2 separate regions of the Homo sapiens genome follow, and region 2 is linked to region 1. Evidence: fine-mapped expression QTL. A gene starts in region 1. The other region holds a variant in brackets. All regions are shown on one strand. Distances are between the middles of the regions.

Region 1 (5,375 bases):
CCCCCCATAATCTTTGCTTTCCCTCTTTTCAGCTCTACTCTTTTCTTCCTCAATATGCGGAATAGAGGACATTTGAAAGATGAGAGGGCAGACGTTGAGAAGGAAGGCCTCTGGATACAGAGCAAAAAAATGAGAACTAGCTGCTCCAATTCCCTAATCTGTGCTTCCCAATGCATGCAGATGACAAATTGTTAGAATAAGAGATGGTCGGAAACCAGAATGACCCATTTCAAATGAAGGTCCTGTGTAAATAAGTGAGGGTTTGACAGCCCAGGGGGTGCTGAGTGCTAAGAAGCGTAAGGTTTAACAAGTCACCCACAGAAAGAGCTGGCTGCTCCCTCTGCTGGCAAAGTCAGTGCCTATCTGGTAAATTCTGGCTCTACAAATGGAGCCATGAAAGCACACTATTAGGTCTCATTTTAAATTCAGATGAACTTAATTTTATTTTCAGAGACAGAGTCTCACTCTGTCACCCAGGCTGGAGTGCAGTGGCGCAGTCTTGGCTCATTGCAGCCTTGACCTCCTGGGGCTCAAGGAATCTTCCTACCTCAGCTTCCTGAGTAGCGGCGGCTACAGGCTTGTGCCACCACGCTCAGCTGATTTTTGTATTTTTTTTTTTTTGTAGAGATGGGGTTTTGCCATGTTGCCTAGCCTGGCATTGAACTCCTGAGCTCAAGTGATCCGCCCACCTCAGCTTTCCAAAGTGCTGGGATTACAGGCGTGAGCCACTGCACCGGTCTCAGGAAGAATTACACAATTTTTCACAAGTGTTAAAGAGTGCTGCGTAAAGGGGACAGAACAAGAGTAAATATTTGATGATTAATTAAGATTTCCTGAAATTCTTTTCCCTGACAGATGGGTGGTATAATTCCAGGAAGTATTTCAATCTCTAGCCTAGATCTTAGGTTTGCCATTTTAAAACAAAGAGATGAATGTCTTCCACCAAGTTAATCTGTTTATGCCTTAGTCTGATCTGAGAAATGAGGATAATAATTATGCCTAACTTATACCTAACTCATTTAACTCAACTGAGTTTAAGTGATTAACTCATAAGTGAATCATTTAATGTTCATTATGAGTTAACTTGAGTTAGTTTAACACAAGTTAACCAACTTAAGAGAGTTACATGATCAACTCATTTAATGTTCAGATTCAATAAATCAAGCAAATTTCTTAGACCACTGCCTGATACATGGTAGATACTCATATTAGCTATAATGATTAGTATTCCAAAAAAGGGTGGACTGAGTGAAAGAAGCGAAACACAAAGGAATACACTCTGCACTCCAAAGTTAACCTGAAAACTTTGGAACCTTGTCGGGGGAGGTAGGACATGCCTCATTATTCCCTCCTCCCTTTTGGAATTCAGGCCCAGCTGACCAGCACTAACATTAAAACAGATCTTAAGACTGACAAAGCAGACTTTGTAGCAATAAGATACCAAATTCCAGCGGGACTCTAGTATGACATCACATGACAGATAGCAAGCCCTGAAAGTGAAGTATTTTACCCCAAATTACGTTTCTTCGCCATATCTTGAAATAGTCCTGCAAAGCTAAAGCTATCTCTTGTGGGGAAAATCTACATTCTGAAGAGAATCCCCTTCCTTTTCTAGGCCTTTTTCCTGATTCAGGAGAGAATCAACTCTGATAAGAAACATTTACAATTTATTCTCTCAATAGACTGCTACCTGGAGACTTCCTCTGCCTAAGGGAAATCTTGGTCTCCTCAACCTCTTATCTTAATGCAGACATTCCCTTCTTTTTTCAGTTTTTTTTTTTTTTTTTGAGATAGTCTCGCTCTGTCGCCCAGGCTGGAGTGATCTCGGCTCACTGCAACCTCTGCCTCTCAGGTTCAAGCTATTCTCCTGCCTCGGCCTCCCGAGTAGCTGGGGTTACAGGCTCCTAGCACCACGCCTGGCTTTTTTTTTTTTTCTTTTGTATTTTTAGTAGAGGTGGCTTTTCACCTGTTAGCCAGGCTGGTCTCGAACTCCTGACCTCAGGTGATCCACCCGCCTTGGCCTCCCAAAGTGCTGGGATTACAGGCGTGAGCCACCGTGCTAAACCGCCTTCTATTAATTCTATCTGCAGCCACAAGTCCTTATATAATCCAGACATTCCCTTCTGTGGATTCCAGGTGTTTGGACAAAACTTTAAATCAATTGTTCATCAGAAAATCTTTGAATCTTAACTATGACCTGGAAACCACTCCCCCTCCCCCAGTAGTCTCACCTCTCCAGATGGAACCAATGTATGTCTTGTATGTACTGATTGACATCTTATGTCTCTCCAGAAGCACACATTCTCAGGATTTCCCAAGAGCTGTATCAGAGGCCATTGGTCACTCATATTTGCCTCAGTATAAATCTCTACAAATATTTTAGCGTTTGACTCTTTTCAGCACAGGTAGAAAAATTAAATATTGTTTCTTTTTTACATACTTAGTTTCACCCCAAAGCTCATTAGATTCCCTAACACTATGTAGGTTCTATTTATTCTGAAGAAGGAGCTTGACCTGACTCACATTATTTACTAGCTGAAAGGCACATTTACCTGCGTTGAACTCGGGATCGTCTTCCAGGGCGACGACAGCTCCCTCTACGGCATCCACGGCGCTCCCGCCCTCCCGGAGGATGCCGTAGCCCACGGTGGCGGCTCTGACCATGCCCTGGTGCACTCGCTCCTTCCGATCCTTGGAGATGGGACCGGCTCCGCCGCCGTGGACCACTACGATGGGATTCATGTCGGCGGATCCTAGGCAGCAGGAAGGCGAAAGCGTCGTCCAAAGCCAGCCCAAGGAAGCCGCGCGGGTACAAGGTCCTCGGGAGACCCTGTGGGGACAATGCCCAGTCTCTGTTCTGAACGGCTGGGTTCGCAGCTGGGGGTGGGTAGGGGCGGCTCGGTCGAGCTTGGTACGAAAAGCCCAGGGGCCCGGCGCCCTCCCGCGTTCCTCTCCGCCCCCGGCCCGGACCTGCTGGGGGTCTCAGTTTCCCCGGGGACGTTAACCCGCGCCCACCGCCGCCCGCCTCCAAGCCCCGGCGCCGAAGGAGGATGTCTATTTCGCCTTCGGGAAAATGTCTATTTTCGTTTATTTCATTCGCCCTCCCGCGTCTCGGGCGGCTGCTCCGGGAGGGCCGCCGACTTACCCAGGGCACCGCAGGACGCGGACGCCGAGACCTCAAGCTGGGTCGAGCCAGCCCCGCAGCCGCCCGGTACCGCCGCTCCCCGACGCCGGCTCGAAACCGCTCAGCCCGCAACCGCTCTGGTCACAACGGTTCTGCGCCTGCGCACGAGGGCGGGACCGCCGCACGGCCCAGTTCCCATAAAGCCCCGAAGGCCGGCTGGCGCGCACCTGTCTCACTCCTCTCAAGAGTCTACGCTCTTGGCCGGCCCGAGCTTCCTGGTGGCACGCGGGGAACCTCCTGCTCCTGACCAGGCTAGGGGCTGGGTGGTTGGGTTGGTGGCGAGAAGCGTGAAGTGGCATGCCACGATTTTGTAATTGCAGATTGAAAAGCAACGCTAGGCTGTGCGCAGTGGCTCATGCCTTGTAATCCCAGCACTTTGAGAGGCCGAGGCGGACGGATCACCTGAGGTCGGGAGTTCGAGACCAGCCTGACCAACACGGAGAAACCCTGTCCCTACTAAAAACACAAAATTAGCTGGGCGTGGTGGCGCATGCCTGTAATCCCAGCTACTCTGGAGGCTAAGGCACGAGAATCGTTTGAACCTGGGAGGCGGAGGTTGCGGTGAGTGGAAATCGCGCCATTGCACTCCAGCCTGGGCAACAAGAGTGAAACTCCGAATCAAAAGAAAAAAAAATTATACTGGGACAATGGGCATAAACAGGGACAGATCCAGGCAAACTGTGATTGATCTCCTGTGGATAGGAGAGTCCTTTCCCTTCTTGTTTACCCACAACTGATAACATATTTTACCACTCTTGGGAATTCCCTTTACTCCTGTTTTACCTTCGTTTCCTGCCTTAAGGCCCAGTTTAAATGAACCCCTCCTGCAAAGCCTTCTCCCTGGCACCCCACTAAGGATCAGTCATTCCCTTTCTAGTGACCTATTGTTAGAGATTACCACAAATTTATTGGCTTCAAACAACACACATTATCTTACAGTTCTGGTGGTCAGAAATTCAAACTGGGTCTGCAGGGTTGAGTTCCTTCGGGAAGCTCCAGAAGAGAATCTGTCTTTTCTTGCTTCTACAAGCTGCCTGTATCCTTGGCTCATGGCCTCATCCTCCATTGCCAAAGCCAACAGCCTAGCATCTTTAACTCTCTCTCCCTCTGGCCTGTTTCTGCTGCTACGTCACTTCTCTCTCTGTCACCATCATCACGATTTTCTTTTCTGACTCTGACTCTCCTGCCTCCTTCTTAAAGGAAGTCCCTTGGGATGACATTGGGCCCACCCAGATAACCCAGGATAATCTCCCTTTCTTACAATTTCTATTCTCATCTGCAAAGTCCCTTTTGCCATGTGAGGAGTGTTCACAGGTGGAGATTCGGATGTGACACCTTTGAGGGCCGTTATTCTGTCTCCCACACTCACCTCTTGGAAGAGGGTTATTTTAGCACGTCTCAACTGGTCGTGAGCCTAGTTGTGTCATCATAATACAGCTCACCATCATTTGGTTTCAGCTATTTATAGGAACCTGAACCCTACCCTATGCCTAGCCCTAACTCAAACCCCATCTCTACTGTTTTTCCTGATTGATCTGGAATTCAGTGATCTGGCTGAGGCTGGGGAAGGTGGCTGGTGGCCCAAGCAGGTAGAATGTTGGTTTCCATTTGATCCTCCCATCTCAGCCTCATGCGTTTATCTACTTCTCTGATGGGCTTCGTATTCCCCATCCCAATCCAAAGTCTCTTAGATAAATTCTCTAGAAAATAAACTTCTGGTCTTTGAGGAGGAAAGAGGAAGCATCTTTTTGTCCGGCTCTGTGGGATAGGAGAAGGAATCTGGCTAACTCCTCTGTAGACGATGTTCCATCAACAATCATTTTATGGATTAAGGATTGTATTCAACTGTCCCTGACGAAACGTGACCACAGTGGTTTAACCAGATAACTGTTGATTTGAAAACAACAATAACAACAACAACAACAACAACAACAACAAGACATCTAGTGGTTGCTGCCCAGGCTGGTGCAGCAGCTCCAAGGTGACACAGATGTCCCATCTCCTTCTCTTCCCTTCAGCATGTGGCTTTCACATTTATGGTGCTCCTAGGCACCTTGATCACTATTGGGGCAGAAGGAATGGGGAAGGGCAAAGGGAAGAAGGCTTTTGCCAGCTCCCCTTTGTTCCTTTAATTCAGGAAAGCTCTCTAGCTTTCCTAGAAGTCCTCCAAGTGGACTTTTATTGGCCAGAA
Region 2 (5,375 bases), 69 kb before region 1:
GGTCTCCCTCCCTGGGGCTGTGCCTGACTTCCAGGGGGCTCGGCGTTGGCAGGATTTCTGGTGCTTGAGGTCACCTGTCAGCCTGTCTCTTGTCATTGGCTATCCGCCGTGCCATCTGCTCCTGTGTGTCCTTGGCACTGTTCGCATGTCTCCAGCTCGCTGGCTTTCTCTGCCACCTTGGAGCCACTCCTGGGTGCACAGGAGTCTTACTGCTCCCACGCTGTGCTGGGGCCTGGGAAGACTGCTGTGGCCTACCTGCCTCCGTGTAGCACACACACCCATTTCTTCTTCTTCTTCTCCTTCTCCTTCTTCAGACAGAGACTCACTCTGTCACCTAGGCTGGACTGCAGTGGTGCCAAATTGGCTCACTGCAACCTCCGCCTCCCGGGTTCAAGCGATTCTCCTGCCTCAGTCTCCCGAGTAGCTGGGATTACAGGCACACGCCACCATGCCTGGCTAATTTTTGTATTTTTAGTAGAGATGGGGTTTCACCATGTTGGCCAGGCTGGTCTCGAACTCCTGACCTCAAGTGATCCACCTGCCTCAGCCTCCCAAATTGTTGGGATTACAGGCGTGAGCTGCCATACCCAGCCTGTTCTTGGAGGGCTCTTCTCTCTGTTCTCAGACTCTTCAAACCCACTCAGGAGCTCTGCCACCTCACTAAGGCTTGGTCTCTCTGGTAGCTTACCTGGAGAATTGGACACCTGGGGAGGATCATTTTTTAATGATCCTCCTGAGTAGCTGGGACCACAGGCAAGTGCCACCATGCCCTGCTATTTAAAAAAAATTTTTCAGCCTGACCAACATAGTGAAACCCTATCTCTACTAAAAATACAAAACTTAGCCGGGTGTGGTGGCGGGTGCCTGTGATCCCAGCTACTCAGGAGGCTGAGGCAGGAGAATGGCGTGAACCCGGGAGGCGGAGCTTGCAGTGAGCTGAGATCGCGCCACTGCACTCCAGCCTGGGCGACAGAGCGAGACTCTGTCTCGAAAAAAAAATTTTTTTTTTGTGGAGATGGGGGTCCCACTATGTTGCCCAGGTTGGTTTTGAACTCCTGAACTCCAGCAATCCTCCTGCTTTGGCCTCCCAAGGTGCTGGGATTACAGTCATGAGCACTGTGCCTGGCTGATTTATCCAATAGTTTTTATATTTACCTAACCAGATTTTGATATTTTGGTTATCATCTGATATAGTAATATTTTATGTAAATTATTGAGTAACGCCAGGTGTGGTGACTCACTCCTGTAATCCCAGCAATTTGGGAAGCCGAGGCGGGTGGATCACCTGATGTCAGGAGTTCAAGACCAGCCTGACCAACATGGAGAAACCCTGTCTCTACTAAAAATACAAAATTAGCCGGACATGGTGGCGCATGTCTGTAGTCCCAGCTACTTGGGAGGCTGAGGCAGGAGAATCGCTTGAACCCAGGAGGTGGAGGTTGTGGTGAGCTGAGATCATGCCATTGCACTCCAGCCTGGGCAACAACAGGGAGACTCTGTCTCAAACACAAAAACAAAAACAAACAAACAAAAATTCTCGAGTACCCAATAAGTAAATTTTTTTGAAACCAAAATGTCTATAAAATCTATAAAAGGTAAAATTTAGGCAACTACTAAATGGTACCATTGATGTGATGTTTTACTTTTTTGAGTTGTTCTTTAGTTCTAAAACAAATACCATTGGGAAGGAATATTTCAACTGTAAAGATATTAAAATACAGTAAAATATTTCCTGTATGAACTAAAATGTTCTCTTAACAAATATTATATCATACACTCTATCATTATTTTGAATGTGTTTTTTTTTTTTTTTTGAGACGGAGTCTCGCTCTGTCCCGCAGGCTGGAGTGCAGCGGCGCGATCTCAGCTCACTGCAGGCTCTGCCTCCCGGGTGCCCACCACCACGCCTGGCTAATTTTTTTGTATTTTTAGTAGAGACGGGGTTTCACCGTGTTAGCCAGGATGGTCTCGATCTCCTGACCTCGTCATCCGCCCGTCTTGGCCTCCCAAAGTGCTGGGATTATAGGCATGAGCCACCACGCCCGGCCCATTATTTTGAATGTTAAGCCCACATAGAAACTCTAAGTGGTCTCATAGAAGAACAGAATTGGAGTCCAGGTGCGGTGGCGCACGCCTGTAATCCCAGCACTCTGGGAGGCTAAGGCGGGTGGGTCACTTGAGGTCAGGAGTTCGAGACCAGCCTGACCAACATAGCGAAATCCCGTCTCTACTAAAATTACAAAAATTAGCTGGGTGTGGTGGTGCACACCTGTAGTCCCAGCTTTTTGGGAGGCTGAGGCAGGAGAATTGCTTGAACCTGGGAGGCAAATGTTGCAGTGAGCTGAGATCATGCCACTAAACTCCAGCCTGGGTGACAGAGGGAGACTCCGTCTCAAAAAAGAAAAAAAAATAAAAAGGGACACAATTGAAGCAACTCAAGTTCTACTTCTTGGTCTTTGCAGTCACTGTGCTTTTGCTGCTTATGTTGAATCTGTTTACACACAGGCATGGGTAGCACCCAGGAGGAGTTGAGATGAGAACCAACTCTGAAGCCGCCTCCAAGGATTTTAGACCTTCATGAATTTACTCATGAATTGAGTTAGCTGGGCAAAAAAATGAGTAGGCAAAATGATGGCATTGTACCCTATAAATATATAGAATTATTACTTGTCAATATAAACAAATAAATCTGTATTTTTAAAAGACAAATGAACCTGTTGGGGATCACCCGTATAACTGGGAGTTCTGAGAAATAATTTCCATGTCAAATATAATGTCTACTTAAAAATAAGTAATAAACATGTTAATTTCTAGCTTGCATATATTATTATTATTATTTTGAGACAGGGTCTTGCTCGTCGCCTAGGCTGGAGTGCAGTGGCGTGATCATGGTTCACTGCAGCCTCAACCTCCAGGGCTCAAGCAATCCTCCCACCTCAGCCTCCCTAGTTGCCGGGACTACGGGCATGTGCCACCATGCCTGGCTTTTTTTTTTTTTTTTTGGTAGAGACAGCGTTTTACCATGTTGCCCAGGCTGGTCTCAAACTCCTGGGGTCAAGCAATCCTCCCGCTTCAGCCTCCCAAAGTGCTGGGATTACAGGTGTGAGCCACTGCTCCCAGCCTTATCATTGTTTTTAAAGCCTTTTACAGAAGGTCACTGGTCTCAGCAGGGACCAACACTTAGTAACTCTTGCTCTTTACCTCCTGGCCACCCTGGGAATCCTTTTCTTGTCTGGGGGTGGGGTGGGGGTTCTGGAAGCCTG[A/G]CTCTTACACAAAACCAGCACCTGCAGGTCTTTCCATTCCTCCAAAGGACTGGGCTTTTGAACTGTACAGCCAGGAAAAGACTCCCTCTTCCTCTATCCTTTCCCTGGGGAAAGCAGCCTTTCCCTGGGGCTGCCTTGGCTTCCAGAATCAGGGGAAGTTCTAAGAGAAGAAAGGAAAATAAGGCCAGGCCTGGTGGCTCATGCCTGTAACCACAGCACATTGGGAGGGCTAGGCGGGAGGATCACCTGAGGTCAGGAGTTCAAGACCAGCCTGACCAACATAATGAAATCCCATCTCTACCAAAAATACACAAAAAATTAGCCGGGCATGGTGGCGGGCGCCTGTAATCCTAGCTACTTGGGAGGCTGAGGCAGGAGAATCACCTGAACCCGGGAGGTGGAGGTTGCAGTGAGCTGAGACTGTGTCACTGCACTCCAACCTGGGCAACAAGAGCGAGTCGACTCCATCTCAGAAGAAAGAAAAAAAAAAAAAAGAAAAAGAAAGGAAAATAAGAGGAAAGATACTATGGGTTAATGTTTCCAAAATTTGCCAGTGCAAGAGGAACAGCTTGGATGGTCTCGGCAGCTGCCTCTGGCTTGCCCCAAATCTGAACTCCTGGGAATTCTATCCTCTAGTCACTGGCCTGGGAGAAAGTAGGGAAGAGCTACTCCACCCTCTGCTCTGGAGAAGAGATCTCAGGCCTAGAGAGGAGCTGTAATTGATGGGAAGTCGCATAGAGAGTTAGGGGCAGAGCCAGAAATGGTATCAGGTCCTAGGGTCCTCACTCTAGGAGTCTTCCTGCTGTTCTGAGCTGCAGAGCATAGCTCTGTCCCTGCCGTTTATTGCTCAGCTGTAAATGCACGCAACATCTTACCAGCAAACACAGTTCAATGCATTTATGCTCTGAACTTGATGCAGCTGTGGGGCTTATAAAAGCTGAAAAACAAGCACTACTGGCTGCTATTTGCTTTCCTCTAAAATCACTTGTGGGTCTTTCCTGGGTGGATTCATAATGCCAGAAAATATGATAACTGGAAAACATGCATCCCCCAGCCCCAAGGGCTGGAAATGGAGATGCCCTGGTCAGGCAAGGGGCAAGTGTAAGCAACCTGTTCCCCAGGGTACTGGGAGGGGCCCGGGCCTGGGTGAGGGGGCTACCTCTGGCTCAGCAGGGGATTCATGTCCAAGGTCAAGGTTGCCATCCACAGTGGCCCCATGAAGTCCGTTCTCCCGTAGCAACCACGGTGATCTTTTTTTGTTTGTTTGTTTGTTTTTTTTTTTTTTTGAGACGGAGTCTCGCTCTGTCACCCAGGCTGGAGTGCAGTGACACCATCTCGGCTCACTGCAAGCTCCGCCTCCCAGGTTCATGCCATTCTCCTGCCTCAGCCTCCTGAGTAGCTGGGACTACAGGCGCCCGCCACCACACTCGGCTAATTTTTTGTATTTTTAGCAGAGACGGGGTTTCACCTTGTTAGCCAGGATGGTCTCGATCTCCTGACCTCATGATCCGCCCGCCTTGGCCTCCCAAAGTGCTGGGATTATAGGCGTGAGCCACCGTGCCCAGCCAGTGATCTTTTAAAAATGTAAATCAGGTCATGTCCCTTCTCTGTGTAAACTCTTCCTGGCTCCCCATAACACTTAGAATAAAACTCCAGACCTCATGTGACCTGTTCCCACCTGTCTCTCCAGCCTCATTTTGTGTCACTACCGCCATATCCCTCTAGCACCCTGTGGCCACACTGGCCTCCTTACCTCCAGGGTAAGGGACACCCTCAGAGCACCTCCGGCCTTCACTCGTTTCCCCTCTGCCTGCCCTGCCTCCTCCAGTTTATTTCCTGATTGCACCTTGTTCTCATCATAGGTAAGTCTTCTCTGATTACCGTGGGGCACCCTCCCCCACCCCCTGGGATCCCAGGGTCTGGCTTTCTTCCCTTCATCACCTTTGTCACCGTCTGAAATGATTTTGCTTCTGTGTTTCCTTGTGTAATTATCTACCTCTCCCTCTAGAATGTAAGCTGCATGCTCACCTTCGATTCTCCAGGGCCCAGCTACCTGGTAGGTGCTTATTAAATATTTATTGAATGGATGATGGGCTCTGAGCCTTTCACCCT

What was found. PIP is the estimated chance that this variant, and not a neighbour inherited with it, causes the effect. A credible set is the group of variants that fine-mapping cannot tell apart.
Region 2: its variant is the best candidate, but not a certain one, in a credible set for the expression of ASRGL1 in whole blood (TOPMed, PIP 0.72).

Annotation. Positions count from the first base shown.
Region 1 is chr11:62,335,345-62,340,719 of GRCh38, reverse strand. ASRGL1 (asparaginase and isoaspartyl peptidase 1) reads right to left here and starts at 3,272. Exons shown (of 7, transcript NM_001083926.2): 1 at 3,146-3,272; 2 at 2,553-2,830. The coding sequence starts at 2,742. RefSeq lists an enhancer at 2,692-3,361.
Region 2 is chr11:62,404,811-62,410,185 of GRCh38, reverse strand. It overlaps LOC102723765 (a long non-coding RNA gene), which reads left to right. Exons shown (of 4, transcript XR_007062699.1): 4 at 1-90. Among named protein-coding and RNA genes, the nearest start is that of SCGB1A1, 12 kb to the left of the region's middle. The variant A/G (reference allele first, on the strand shown) is at 3,264.